Linked DNA regions of Homo sapiens: regions 1 and 3 are each linked to region 2. Evidence: fine-mapped expression QTL. A gene starts in region 2. Each other region holds a variant in brackets. All regions are shown on one strand. Distances are from middle to middle.

Region 1 (4,239 bases), 180 kb after region 2:
AACATAGTGTTTGCTAAGGCAGTAATTTAGACTTTACCTTATTTGTGATTACTGTAGTGATTGATTGATTGATTACTATTAACTACAAGGTATAATTTACTATCACCTTATTTAAATTTTATGAATTAATTTGAATGTTTTTTACACTAACTAACTTTTCCCAATAAAGTCCACTATGAAACCACGACATCCAAGAGCCCAAAGTCGTCTTCTCTGCCTTCAAGTCATAGATTTGCCCGCAGTATCTGTGGTGCTCTGGGCCCTCCCGGTGTCCGTCTCTTCCAGGATGGGGATGCCCGGGAGGGAAACTGTCTGTGGCTCTAGGCTGCACGGCTCGTGCCAACCCATCAGGGAGGGCCATGCCCGTTGTCCTATTGAGTGCCCCACCCTGCACCCCCACCTTGGGAATTCACATGTCCATTCCTTGAGGTTCATGTCAACCTCGGAGGCATCCCTGTCTTCATTATAGCTGACCCCTCTCCTGCGTCCTTCTGTCAGCATATCCCTTCTGCATCCTTCCCGTCACACATACATACCAAGCTATGATGATTGATTGATAGTGGCCTTCGAGATGAAAACCATCCTTAACCCCATGATCCTTCCCAGCTGGCATCCCCACCCTAAGCAAGGTTCCCTAAAGAGAAGCTTGTTGACATTTTCTCCCCTTCCTCACTTACAGTCAGCTGTCACCTTGCTCCCTCCACCTCCCCTCGTCAAGGTGACTGCCTTCCACTGCCAGCCACACTGGCAATTGTCTTGAGACCTCACTGTGCAAGCGGCCTGGGGGCGTGGCGGGGAGGAGGAGGAGGACAAGGACTCCTGAACGCTGCTCACTCGGCTTCCAGGACACCCCGCTCAGGTTCTGCCTGCCTTACTGGGGGCTCCTTCTCCTTTCCTGGGGCTGAGAGGTTGTGTCTGTGCCCACTCTCCTGAGCTCAGCCAGAATCTCGCATGTAAAGACATCCAAATGCCGACTTCTTCTCCCCAGAGCCTGGCTTTTATAACTGACTGCCGCCTCACGCTCCATTCGGATGTCTAATGAATCTCTCAGACTTGACCTGTCCAAACTGCTTGCCACCTCTACTCGCCACCGCCCACCCCCACACCCTCCATACCGTTTTCCCCACGTCACTGCCCCTCCCCCCCTTCCTCTTGCCAAATGCCTAAAAATAAAAATTCTGAGGTGGATCTGTAGCACAATGGGCTTCTAGTGACAAATCAAAATTCTGATCTTTAAAATGTATGCACAATTTACCTGTTACCGCCTGGCCTAAGCCATCCTGCTGTTACTGCTGTGTAGCAAGTTGCAGCCAAAGCGACCTCACACGGCTCCTGAAGGTCAAGAATCTGGGAGCAGCTCAGCTGGATGGCTGTGACTCGGGGTCTCATGAAGTGGCCAAGATGCCAGCTAAGGCTGCCGTCTCTGAAGGCTTGACCTGGCGAGGATTTGCTTCCAGACTCACTCGCGTGGCTATTGACAGAAGGCCTCAGTTCCATGCCACATGGCCCGTTCCACAGAGCAGCTCACAGCTTGGTAGTAGCTGGCTTCCCCAGAGCGGTATCTGCGAGCAGCGTCCAGATGGAAGCCATGGTGTTCCCTTAAAACCTGATATGGAGGGTGATTCCCCATCATGTCTGTATTCTGTGGGTCACACAGACCAAGGCCGGTCCACTGTGGAAGGCAAGGACGAGGTTGCCAGTGCCCGGCGGTGGGTGGCCACAGCCAGCCTCCCTGCCAGTGTCCCCCACAGACAAGTTGTCCCTGTAAGACAGGTCAGCTCAGGTCATTCCGAGCTCAGACCTTCCAACGGCGTCCATGTCCCTCAGTAAAAGCCAGAGTCCTAAAGGCCTCTTGCCTGCTCTGGCCTCCTCTCACCATTCTCTGCCATCCTCCATCTGCCCCTGGTGTCCCTGAAGTCTTGAACATGCCGAGCACATCCTGCCTCGTATGCTTCCTGGCCTGGAATGCACTTGCCCCGGGACACCCTGTGCTGGCTTTAGTGTTTCCTTCCTGTCTCCTCAAGTCACCTTATTATCAAAAGGACTCCGACAGGCTAAGTGTGGTGGCTCATGCCTGTAGTCCCAGCACTCGGGAAGGCCGAGGTGGGAGGATCGCTTGAGCCCAGGAGTTCAGGACCTGCCTGGGCAACATGGCAAAACTTTGTCTCTCT[TAA/T]AAAAAAAAAAAAAAAAAAAAAAAAGTCCAATGTCCATTTATGTATCTCTTAACATCTTCCCTTGTGCCTCAGTGGGAAAGCAGCCCACACCATCCCTTGCTCCCTGGGCTCCTCCATCCTCTGCCAAGGCTCACAGCACCGCAGGCACCAGCCCTCACTGGACTGACCTATGGGGAATAGCCAGTGTTGGCTCTGCTCATCCTCATCAGAGGCAAAGGGCTTGTTGGCATGTGCTCGATAGATAGTAGTTGAACAATGTGGACCATTATTGATTTAAACCAACCCATCAGAAGGTGTTAGAGGGCAAAAAGCTGGCAAATGAGAAGGCACCAGGGGCCTGGAGAGCCGAGGCTGAGGCTCAGAGGCCCTGCCCCGAAGTCCTGACCCCTCCTCTCACCTCACAGACCACGACAGAGCTGGGCCAAGCAGGAGGGGAACTGCCTGTGCGTGCGGGGCCTTTGGGGCCTTCCTGCAGCCTCCTTTATGCTCGCTCCTGCCCCTGTGCCATCTGCAAAGGGGACTGCCTCCCCTCTGCATCCCGAGATTTCGCATCCAGGACGGGCCCCTGCTCTCAGCAGTCTTGTTGATGCCTCATCAGAGGAGGGTTGGGGGAACAGAGCCAAGGACCAAAGCCGAGTCCCAGATCCCTCCACCCCACTGTGCCTCCCCAGCCTGTCACCCTGCGTTGGTGACCCCTCAGACCTGCTCCCTACTCCCTGCACTCAGCACACAGCCCCTGCTCTCCTGTGGCTAGCAGCACCCATGCCTCTCCCAGGATGGCTCTGTCCTGGTCCCTGCCTGCTTAGTGCCCTGCAGGGGTTCCCGTGTCTCCTGTGCAACACCTTCAAAGGCCACAGTTCACTCTGCAGCCTTCATCCTCACAGCTTCCAGCCCCAACCTCTTCCACCCTCCTCCCAGGACAAGGCCTCCTCCCCTCCCCACGGAAGCAAGAGAGAAGGAGCTGCCACGTGCTGGGCACCTCAGAGCCTGTGTCCAGCCTTTACTCTCGTCACCCCATTTCATCTGTGCGACCCGAGATGTCAGTGCCATTGCTGCATCTCCAGCTGCACAGCTGAAGAAGTGACTAGGGGAGGTGAAGTCACACTGCGGCAAGTGGCTGGCCCCGCCACCCGGCTTTGAGAGGCACTTCCTCCAGGGCCCCCAGCTTTGGGCCATCCCTCCTGGACCCTCTGAGTAATGGTGATGCCAGTGGCCACTCCCTCCCTCTCACACCTTGTCGATTCCCACGGTTCCCTGCCCGTCACCAATGCGTGTCCCTCGTCTCCCTTACCAGCTCCTTCTCCTCGTGGCCCCTGACATTGAGGTGCTCCAGGGCTCCCATCTGGAGCCTCCTCTCCATGTTCAGTGACACCCAGCAGGGGCTTGCTGGTCAATGTTGAGCCACCGGCTCTCTAGGGCCAGGCCAGGGAGGATGCGAACAGATGCACATCTGTGCATTTAGAAAACACGGGACCGCTATAAAGGAATTGCAGCACACCATTCACAAAAGGAGACGTACAGGACTCTAACTGGGAATCCCAGCCAGCCAGCTGATTCCCACAGAAGGCTTTCATTGATTTTTGCCAGACTCTTGCATCCACGGCCAACCTATGGTTGTAACTGACAAACGAGACTAGTTCCAACAGGAATGCTGCTTGATATTTGTGTTTACCTTAAGGAATAAATGAAAGTGAAACAACAAAAACCTATGTTGGACTTTCACTTTGTCAGTGAGTGACTTCCTTGCTGAGTCAGATAATAGTTGTTAACTACTTTGACAATTTCTTCCATTTTTTTTTGTGCTACTGACGATGTAACTGCTATAGATAACACACATTTACATTTAATTGGCATTATTAACATAACAAATTCACCTTTGATCTGTAGCGTTTCCCAATTTCCATGGGTAAATGCTCCCACCACATCAGATTTCGAGCCACGGGCTGGCAGTGCGAAAACGTGGAGTTGGTTAGAGAAGCCCAGGAGCGCGCCGTGATGCATCCTTCTATCACCCAGACAATTGGACCGATTGTGGTAAAATGTCATTAGGAAAGGATGAGTTGCT
Region 2 (4,239 bases):
GCGATCCTCCCACCTCAGCCTCCCAAGTAGCTGGGACTACAGGTAGGTGCCACTACACCCAGCTATGTTTTTGTATTTTTTTGTAGACAAGGGTTCTATCATTTTGCCCAGGCTGGTCTCCTGAGCTCATGTGATCCACCCATCTTGGCCTCCCAAAGTGCTGGGATTACTTGTGTGAGCCACTGTGCCCATCCTCTTTTTCTTAAAGGTTGTTCTCTCCCCACTTCATGGTCCTATTGCCCTTTGTCAGCATCTGTTAACTAGCACAGGCCCACAGTACTTTGAATTACAGTGGGCACATTCACCCACAGATGTTCACTAGGCACTCCCTAGGGGATGGGCAATGTGCTGGGTGCTGCAGGAGATACAGCTCCTGCTTTCCAGAAGTTTATATTCCCTTGGGGGAGAGGGAGATGTGAGGAGTAGAGGGTAAACACGGTAAGGGCAGGTCTCCCTAGCACCCTGCTCTCTATTCAGCACAAGGCCAGCAGTGGACATCGTCGTCTTGCATTATTCAGGTTTATAGGCCAATACTGAAATCTATCTTATTCATCATCCCGTGAGCAGGGGAAACATCATTAGGGTTTTCTATACCAGGATGATAGTGAGCATGTAGTAGTTTTTGTTTTTTTGTGTTGTTTGTTTGCTTTGTAATTTTGTTTTCTTTTGTTTTTGGAGTATTCACTATGAAGATAAGAAAGGGTAAGAATAAAATGCCCCAAATGACCAGAGGAATAGAGATAGAAGTCAGGTCCCTCAAATTTGTTGGAGGAGGGGGACAAGCTGGGAGGGGGGACGTGCTGGGGGCGGGGCGGGAACAAGCCCAAAAAGGGACAGCTGCTGCGGTGCCTCTTTTGTGTTTGTAAATGTCCTCCCCGCAAGGTGGCTCTAGCCTGTAATCCCAGCACTTTGGGAGGCTGAGGAGGATTTCTTGAGCCCATGAGTTTGAGACCAGCCTGGCAACATAGTGAGACTCTGTGTCTGTAGTTCCAGCTACTCCGGAGGCTGAGGTGGGAGGGTCGGTTGTCCAGGGATTTGAGGCTGCAGTGGGCCGTGATCGCGACACTCCACCCCAGCCTGGGCGACAGAGGGAGACCCCGTCTTAAAAAAAAAAAAAAGTCCTTGATCAAGAGGGCTTCGGGTGTTTCCATCTGTGGAGTGAGGGGACGGGTTAGGTGAATTCTAGGGGCGCTTCCACCTCACATTATGAAAGGTCCTGAGAGTCAGATTCTAGTTCCACTGTGTCCCGAAGCTGTGGGGCCTTTCCTTAGCCTCCGCTTCTCCTTCTGTAAAGCCAGGTAGTTGGCCTAGATCACTTTTCCAGAAGACTGTGACTCCGGGACACCTGTGACACTCTTGAGGGGAGCGTGCCCAGTACCCCTGGTCGCGTCTCTGGGATTCCGCCGGGGTGGGGGCCCGCGCGAGGCCGCCCCTGAGCCTCACCTGTGCGCGGAGCGGTGACTCACCTGCCCTCGCGCAGCCCTCTCCGCCCGCGGGCTGTTCCAGGAGTCACCGCTCCTCCTCCCTCTCAGGGGTCACTCCCGGCCTAAGCTCCCACTAGGGGCCGGGGAGGAAGGAATTCTGAGGTGGGCGGCGGGGAGGAAGAGGTCCCTCGGGGGTCCCGGTCCGGCGTTGCCAGACTCTCTTCGCGGTGGGGGCCTTCCCTTTCCCCAAAAGCGGAGGCCGGAACGGCCGGGAGGAGCGGGCGGGGCGGCGGCGGGAGGCGCCGGGAAGAGCGAGTCGGAGGGAGGTGCCAGGAAGGGCGGGCGGGGCCGGGACAGGGGCGGGGGCCGCGGGCGGGGGGCGGGCCGGGGGCGGGGGCGTGGGGCGGCCCATTTCCTCCTCCTAGCCGGACTGGAGGGAGACAAAGCAGCGCCCGTCTGCTTCGGGCCTCTGGAATTTAGCGCTCGCCCAGCTAGCCGCAGGTAACTTCGTACCTCCCTCCTCGCGGGCGCGGTCTCTCGGGCCAGGCCGAGAGGGTCCTTGGGCCGGGCCGTCCCAAGCTGGGCCCCGCGAGCCGCGGGCGGGCGAGCGGGCGGGGCGCGGTTTCTTTGGCGACGTCGCCGGGAATTGGGCCCCGGGCGGGCGTGGGACCCGCGTCGGGCCGGCGGTCCCTTCCCCCGCAGGGCCCGAGTATGGGGCCCGGGCGGGCACGGCCGGCGCTTCCCAGCGCTCGGGAAGTCGGGGGGCCGCCTGGGCTGGGGAGGAGAAACTATAGGCCCAGCGCCGCCGCCGCGTTTCCTCTTGGAAAAGTTTTCTCGCGGTTTCCAAACTTTGTTACCGCGGCCTCGGCGCGCGCGGCAGCCCCGCGCCGGGCCCCTCGGCCGCCTTCCTTCCCTGGGGCGGCTTGTCTGGGAGCCGCTTTCCCGGGAAGTGATTGTCGTCCGGCTCCGAGGCGTTCCTGCCCCCTCCCCCTTCCCGGCCGCTGAGACTTCCCGATGGGGCGGCGGGGACGCGGGCTCGGCGAACCGGGAGGCTGGAGCCCGGGCTTCTCCCATACAGCTTCGCCGTAGGTGGGCCACACCCGTGTGGACTTTTGGCGTGACCGTCCACTTGGACTCGGGGATTACTCAGCTTTCCTGGGTTTCTTGTCGGTTGGACGCACTTAGCTTTCAGCCCTAGTTTTCAGGAGTGGCATTAGAGAGGTTTTTTTTTTTTTTTAATTGTTGTTGACTTTTAAAGGAGCGTGTGTGTGCGTGCGAGTGTGAAGCACTTGTTGGAAAAAATGTTGCCTGAATGAATGCCTGACCTTTGCTTGGCAGCAGTGGCTTCCCAGTAATGCAGGCGGCGGTTGGCCCAGTTCCAAGGTTGACTCCCTCTTACGTCCTCTTGCATCTTGGTGACATTTTTTTGGTGCGTGTGTTTTGTACAGAATTTACAATTATTTGGAAAAGAGCGAGATATGTCAAGTCTACGACTAAATTCGGGGCATTTTATATTTATGATGAAGGAAATGCTTACATCATTGTTGGGACAGGATAGGCATTTTGTGGAGCGAATATTTGTGTTTAGTCAGCAGTGATTTTTAAATACTGGACAGGTGGGTGTTACTTTAAGGAACGGAATTTATAAATCGAATTAATTAGGATGTGTTATTTTGTTTTACAGGAAGAATGAAGAATGAGTGTAGGAGTTACCTATAGTTTCTGCCTAATTATTTACCAATCTGGACTTTTGAACAAACATTTTTTTTAAAGACGGGGTCTCCGTCGCCCGGGCTGGAGCGCAGTGACACGATCATGACTCACTGCGGCTTCTGTCTCCTGGGCTCAAGTGATCCCCCCACCTCGGCTTCCGAAGTAGTTGGGACTACAGGCACGCGCCACCACATCCGTCTAATTTTTGTATTTTTGGTAGAGATGGTGTCTCGCTGTCTTGCCCAAGCTGGTCTCGAACTCCTGGGCTCAAGTGGTCCTCCTGCCTCAGCCTCCCAAAGTGTTGTGATTACAGGCCTGAGCCAGGGTGCCTGACCCCATCTGGATATTTATTCAGCGAAAGAATAATTTTTTAATCCACCTAAGAGCTCACAGTGTAATAGGGGAGACACACACCCCAGGTGTAGTACAGAGCGGACTGCAGTAAGTGCCTTAACAGTACTAATGAAACTATTGTCTGAGTCAAATCTTACCTAATAGTAACAACAAAAGAAACTTGTAGAGGCACGGAGAGGGGGCTAATAAGTTTTACTTGGGTAAGTCCAGAAAGGCTTTCAGGAGGTGGTGGCATTTGATCTGGATGAAACATGAGTCGAGTTTTTTTTAAGTGAAGGGAGAAAGTCATGAGAAGCATAAAAGGGCATAGGAGTTTGGGGAATTGTGATATCACTCTCCTGGTTTTCTTTTCCTTTTGACTCATCTCAGTTTCTTTCTTTTCCTCGCCCTCACTCTTTCCTCTCGTACCCAGGGTTCTTTCCAAAGTATCTTTGTCCTCCACACCACTGATGTGGCATCACCTTCACTCCCATCAGTGATATCTCATTTCATATAGTGACTTAGAGATGAGAGGTACCCTCCTCCAAGATGAGAATCACTGCTCTGTGCAGTCTCTTCTGTCATCAGCCTTATGTGCTAAAAGTCCAAGCCTTTGAGTGCAGGTGTGTCTCCTGACCCACATGGTCACCTGTGCATTGGGAAGCTTTTTGGGTGTCCCAGGCTTCTCAAACTCAAGGTGTCCAAAGTGGGACTCCTGTCTCTTCTGGAGACATGAACCAGATGTGGAGATCCAGGGTAACTGCCCTGC
Region 3 (4,239 bases), 100 kb after region 2:
AGTGAAGCCATTAATGAACCTCTTGTATATGAACGTAACAAATTAAACCTTATAATAAGATACTCTTTTGTAGTGTGTGAGGGAGTAAAATTAACATTGTCACTACACTGTGATGGTGCATTTCTTTCTTTTCCTTTTTTTTAAAGAATAAAACAGACAGGGTCTCACTCTGTTACCTAGGCTGGAGTGTAGTGGCCGTGATCATAGCTTACCAAAGTTTTAAACTCCCAGGCTCAAGTGATCTCCCACCTCACCACCCAAGTAGCTGGGACTACAGGTGTGTGTTACCACACTCGGCTAATTTTTAAATTCTTTGTAATAATGGGGTCTCGTCGTGTTGCCCAGGCTGGTCTCAAACTCCTGGCCTCAAATGATCCTCCTGTGTTGGACTCCCAAAGGGCTGGTATTACAGACAGGAGCCACTGTGCCTGGCCTGCATTTCTGTTTAATATTTGCACCATGTTAGGGAGCTAGAAATTATTGTTTAAAGCTTTTAAGAGTACATGACTAAGATTGGCAGAAGGGTGGATTTTACTAGGGTAAATTGGACTCAAGCAAGAGTGTTTCCCTCTACTACAAGGTAGAAACTGGACCTTTCTGTGCCTAATTCATGAGATGAAATCCTTATTGAGATTTGAAAAGAAAGTTGTAAATATGGAAGTATTTTAGAGAGAAATTGTGTATCTTTTCAGAAAATAGTTTTAGACTAGAGATTAATAATGAACACTTGAAAGTTGTCATGGGAACTCCAAGGCTGTCTTTAGTACATTCTGGTGAATGAATGATTTCTCTCATGTTTTTCCCTCATGCCCCAGTCTGCTGCCCATTTCTCTTGGAGGGAGTCATGTTCTTTTTCACCTGACCATTGGTTCTTACCCTTTGCCTGCCCTTTAAATAAATTTCTTTCCTTTTTTCTTTATCTCCCTTAACAGCCTTTTTCTAATAGTGGAAGTTACAGATTTTTCTCTGCAAAACAAGAAAAATTGCCAGAATACATCTCTCTAAGTCACTGCTTTGGTCATCATATCCTAGCCGTCTTCAGAAATCTGGAGTGACTGCTCTTGTCAACCATGTTAAATCTAAGCTCCCTTCCTAGCCCCAGAGGCTTCTTGTTATTTGGTCCTACTTTGGCCAAGCCCAGAGTAACTTCACTATTAATGGGCATCATGTCTCAGATTACTGGCTCTGGCCTTCTCTGTACCCAGCCATATTGAAATCCTGCTGTTCCTTTTGTACCAAGCTCAAAGCTCATTTATCCACTGCATTCGTTAAAAAAAAAAATTTTTTTAAATAGAGATGGGGTCTTGCTATGCTGCCCAGGGTGGTCTCCAACTCCTGGCCTCAAGCAGTCCTCCCACCTCGGCCTCCCAAAGTACTGGCATTACAGATGTGAGCCTACCACTGCATTCTTAAGTGCCTTCCTATTTTCTAAATATCAGTAATATTAGTGGCACTGTCCATTTGTATTTAACCATCAAAGCATGAAGCATGGTACTGTTAATGCATAAAGGTTAAATGATTTATACAAGGTCCCATAGCTAGTAAGTAGAGGTGCTATACTTTGAACCCAGCCTGGCTCCAGAATTTGAGCCCTTAACCACTGTGCAACACTGTAAGGACTAGTTGAAATTAATAGTATATTAGATTGACAGTACCATAACTTACAATTGTAATTCCCTTTCAGACATTTTATTTTGAAAATTACGCATGTAGGGAAGCTGAAAGAATTATACAGTGAACCACCCACATATGAATCCACTTCTTAGATTCTATTAAATGTTTAAATATTTCCTTTGAGACATATTTAGCCATCCCTGTATCCATCTTACTGTTTTGATGCATTTCAAATTCAGTTGCAGACACTTGTACATTCACCTCTAAACACTGTCCCATATGTGTCATTAATTAGAGTTAAAAAAAATTTTTTTTTTTTTTTTGAGACAGGTTCTTGCTCTGTTGCCCAGGCTGAAATGCAGTGATGTTAACACTGCTCACTATAGCCTTGAACTCGTGGGCTCCAGCAGTCCTCCCACCTCAGCCTCCTGAGTAGCTAGCAGCACGGGTATGCACCACCATACCTGGTTAATTTTTTTATTTTTTATAGAGACAGGGTCTTGCCATGTTGCCCAGGCTGATCTTGAACTCCTGGGCTCGAGTGATCCTCCCACCTTGGCTTCCCAAAGTGCTAGGATTATAGGTATGAGCTCCTGCGCCTGTCCCAGTATTTTTAAAGGTAAGTTTTATACATACTGAAATGTACAAATCTTAAGTGTGCTATTGGTGAATTTCGATAAAGGCACATACCTTGTAACCCAAGCCTCTATCAAGATAAAATTATGTAATACCCTTTTAGTTGAATATTTGGCTTTTTTTTCTTTTTCTTTTTC[T/TTTTTC]TTTTTTTTTTTTTTTTTTGAGACAGAGTCTTATTCTGTCACCCAGGCTGGAGTGCAGTGGCATGATCTTGGCTCACTGCAACCTCCGCCTCCCGCATTCAAGCAATTCTCCTGTCTCAGCCTCCCAAGTAGCTGGGATTACAGGCACCTGCCACCACGCCCAGCTAATTTTGTTTGTATTTTTAGTAGAGACAGGGTTTCACCACTTTGGCCATTGTTGGTCTGAACTCCTGACCTCAAGTGATCCGCCTGCCTCGGCCTCCCAGGGTGCTGGGATTACAGGCGTGAGCCACTGGGCCCAGCCTTTGGCTCTCTTGTAGTTCAAGTACATGAGTTCTACATGCCCCTCAGAATTAACCCCTGCTTTTCTGATTGTTCGTGAACTTTCATTGGTTCTTCAGTTTATTACATTGACTTGAGAACAGGGCCATCTCCAGCTTATTTGCCAGCTTACTTGGCATGGAGCATAGTATGATTGATGGGCTTGTTATTGTAGTCATCATTCTGAATTCCTAAATGGTATACATGTGTATTCTTCATTGATTAAAAATTCCTTTGATATGTCGTTTCCAGTCATTTTCATGAATTAAGCTGACCATATTCCTATTTGTTTTCCAATAGCACATGACTTGTTCAAGTGGCTTTGATGTTGAGGGAATGCTTCCCTTGAAACCTATCCTTTTTTTTCCGTGACTGCCATTTTACAGGTATTGTTTAAAGATTTCTCAGACTGGTTTAGGAGGAAAGGATGGTTCTGTGAGTCTCATCTCCCATCTACACCCATTCCCTTGGTGATCTCATCTAGGCTAGTGACTTTAAATACCTGTATTCACGGATGATGACTTCTAAATTTATGTTTCCAGCCTGGACCATTCCCCTGGACTTGTCATCTCTACTTGGACGACTAATAAACATTCTAACTTTAACATGTCATATATTGAATCTTAATTGTTCTGCATCCCCCACTTTCCTAATGTGTTCCACTTAATAGTCTTCTTAATCTTTTCTTGGTATTCAGTTAGTTAAAATGCTAGTTACAAATAACAGGGCTCAGAGCAGTGGCTCACGCCTGTAATCCCAGCACTTTAGGGTCGCTTGAGCCCAGGAGTTTGAGACCAGCCTGGGCAACATGGCAAAACCCCATCTCTACAATAAATACAAAAATTAGGCAGGTGTGGTGCCATGCACCTGTAGTCGCAGCTACTTGGGAGGCTGAGGTGGGAGAATCGCTTGAGCCCAGGAGGCAGAGGTTGCAGAAAGCCAAAACTGCAACTCTGCATTCCAGTCTGGGCAACAGAGCAAGACCCAGTCTCAACAACTAAACAAAAAACAGAAGTCTAACCTTTCATAAGTATATCTAATCCCCAGACTCCCTTCTCAATTTAAACTGAGGGCGGGGTGTGGTGTGCGTGTGCATGCGTGTGTGTGTGTGTTTAAAGATTGTGTGTGTGTGTTTAAAGATTGATATAAAATATTTGAAAGGTGAGATCTTAAAAATATTATTTTCCAATGTGGTACCTCTGATACTGAAATAATTGATGAATAAATCAAAATACTGATTATTGTTTTTGGAAAGCCAGTGATTTATGTTTTTACTGGAAATATATTTGTTTAATAATTCTAGTTATAAATTAGGGTAATGGATTTGGTGGGAGTGTCAGCTGAACTTCAGATAAACCGTTTATAGTTTGTCCTGTTCTTCATAATCTATCTGATTCAACACACATCTAATTCAAAGCAAGCACAAATTGAGTGTCTAAATGGTACCACTTATGCACTGTAATTTTTTTTGACACTTTAGGAATGCTGCATCAAAACTAAGAAAATTCCTGACCACCTGCTGTTAGATTTT

Alleles and levels. Alleles are on the strand shown, and positions count from the first base shown. SD is a standard deviation of normalised expression in the study named.
For the expression in CD4 T cells of the gene that starts at base 1,840 in region 2, TAA is the high allele of the variant in region 1 and T is the other (moderate effect, 0.60 SD a copy in BLUEPRINT).
In carriers of allele TTTTTC in region 3, the expression in monocytes after triphosphate RNA of the gene that starts at base 1,840 in region 2 tends to be higher than with T alone (large effect, 0.75 SD a copy in Kim-Hellmuth 2017).

Evidence for each region. PIP is the estimated chance that this variant, and not a neighbour inherited with it, causes the effect.
Region 1: its variant is the best candidate, but not a certain one, in a credible set for the expression of CTNNA1 in CD4 T cells (BLUEPRINT, PIP 0.75).
Region 3: its variant is the best candidate, but not a certain one, in a credible set for the expression of CTNNA1 in monocytes after triphosphate RNA (Kim-Hellmuth 2017, PIP 0.80).

What each region holds. Positions count from the first base shown.
Region 1 is chr5:138,934,846-138,939,084 of GRCh38, forward strand. It overlaps CTNNA1 (catenin alpha 1), which reads left to right. Exons shown (of 18, transcript NM_001903.5): 18 at 1-189. Among named protein-coding and RNA genes, the nearest start is that of LRRTM2, 62 kb to the left of the region's middle. The variant TAA/T (reference allele first, on the strand shown) is at 2,172.
Region 2 is chr5:138,751,586-138,755,824 of GRCh38, forward strand. CTNNA1 (catenin alpha 1) reads left to right here and starts at 1,840. Exons shown (of 18, transcript NM_001903.5): 1 at 1,840-1,925. CTNNA1-AS1 (CTNNA1 antisense RNA 1) reads right to left here and starts at 2,339. Exons shown (of 2, transcript NR_134244.1): 1 at 1,938-2,339. RefSeq lists a silencer at 1,730-2,169 and enhancers at 1,873-2,440, 2,441-3,007.
Region 3 is chr5:138,856,208-138,860,446 of GRCh38, forward strand. The region is part of intron 7 of CTNNA1 (catenin alpha 1); the gene reads left to right. Among named protein-coding and RNA genes, the nearest start is that of LRRTM2, 17 kb to the right of the region's middle. The variant T/TTTTTC (reference allele first, on the strand shown) is at 2,388.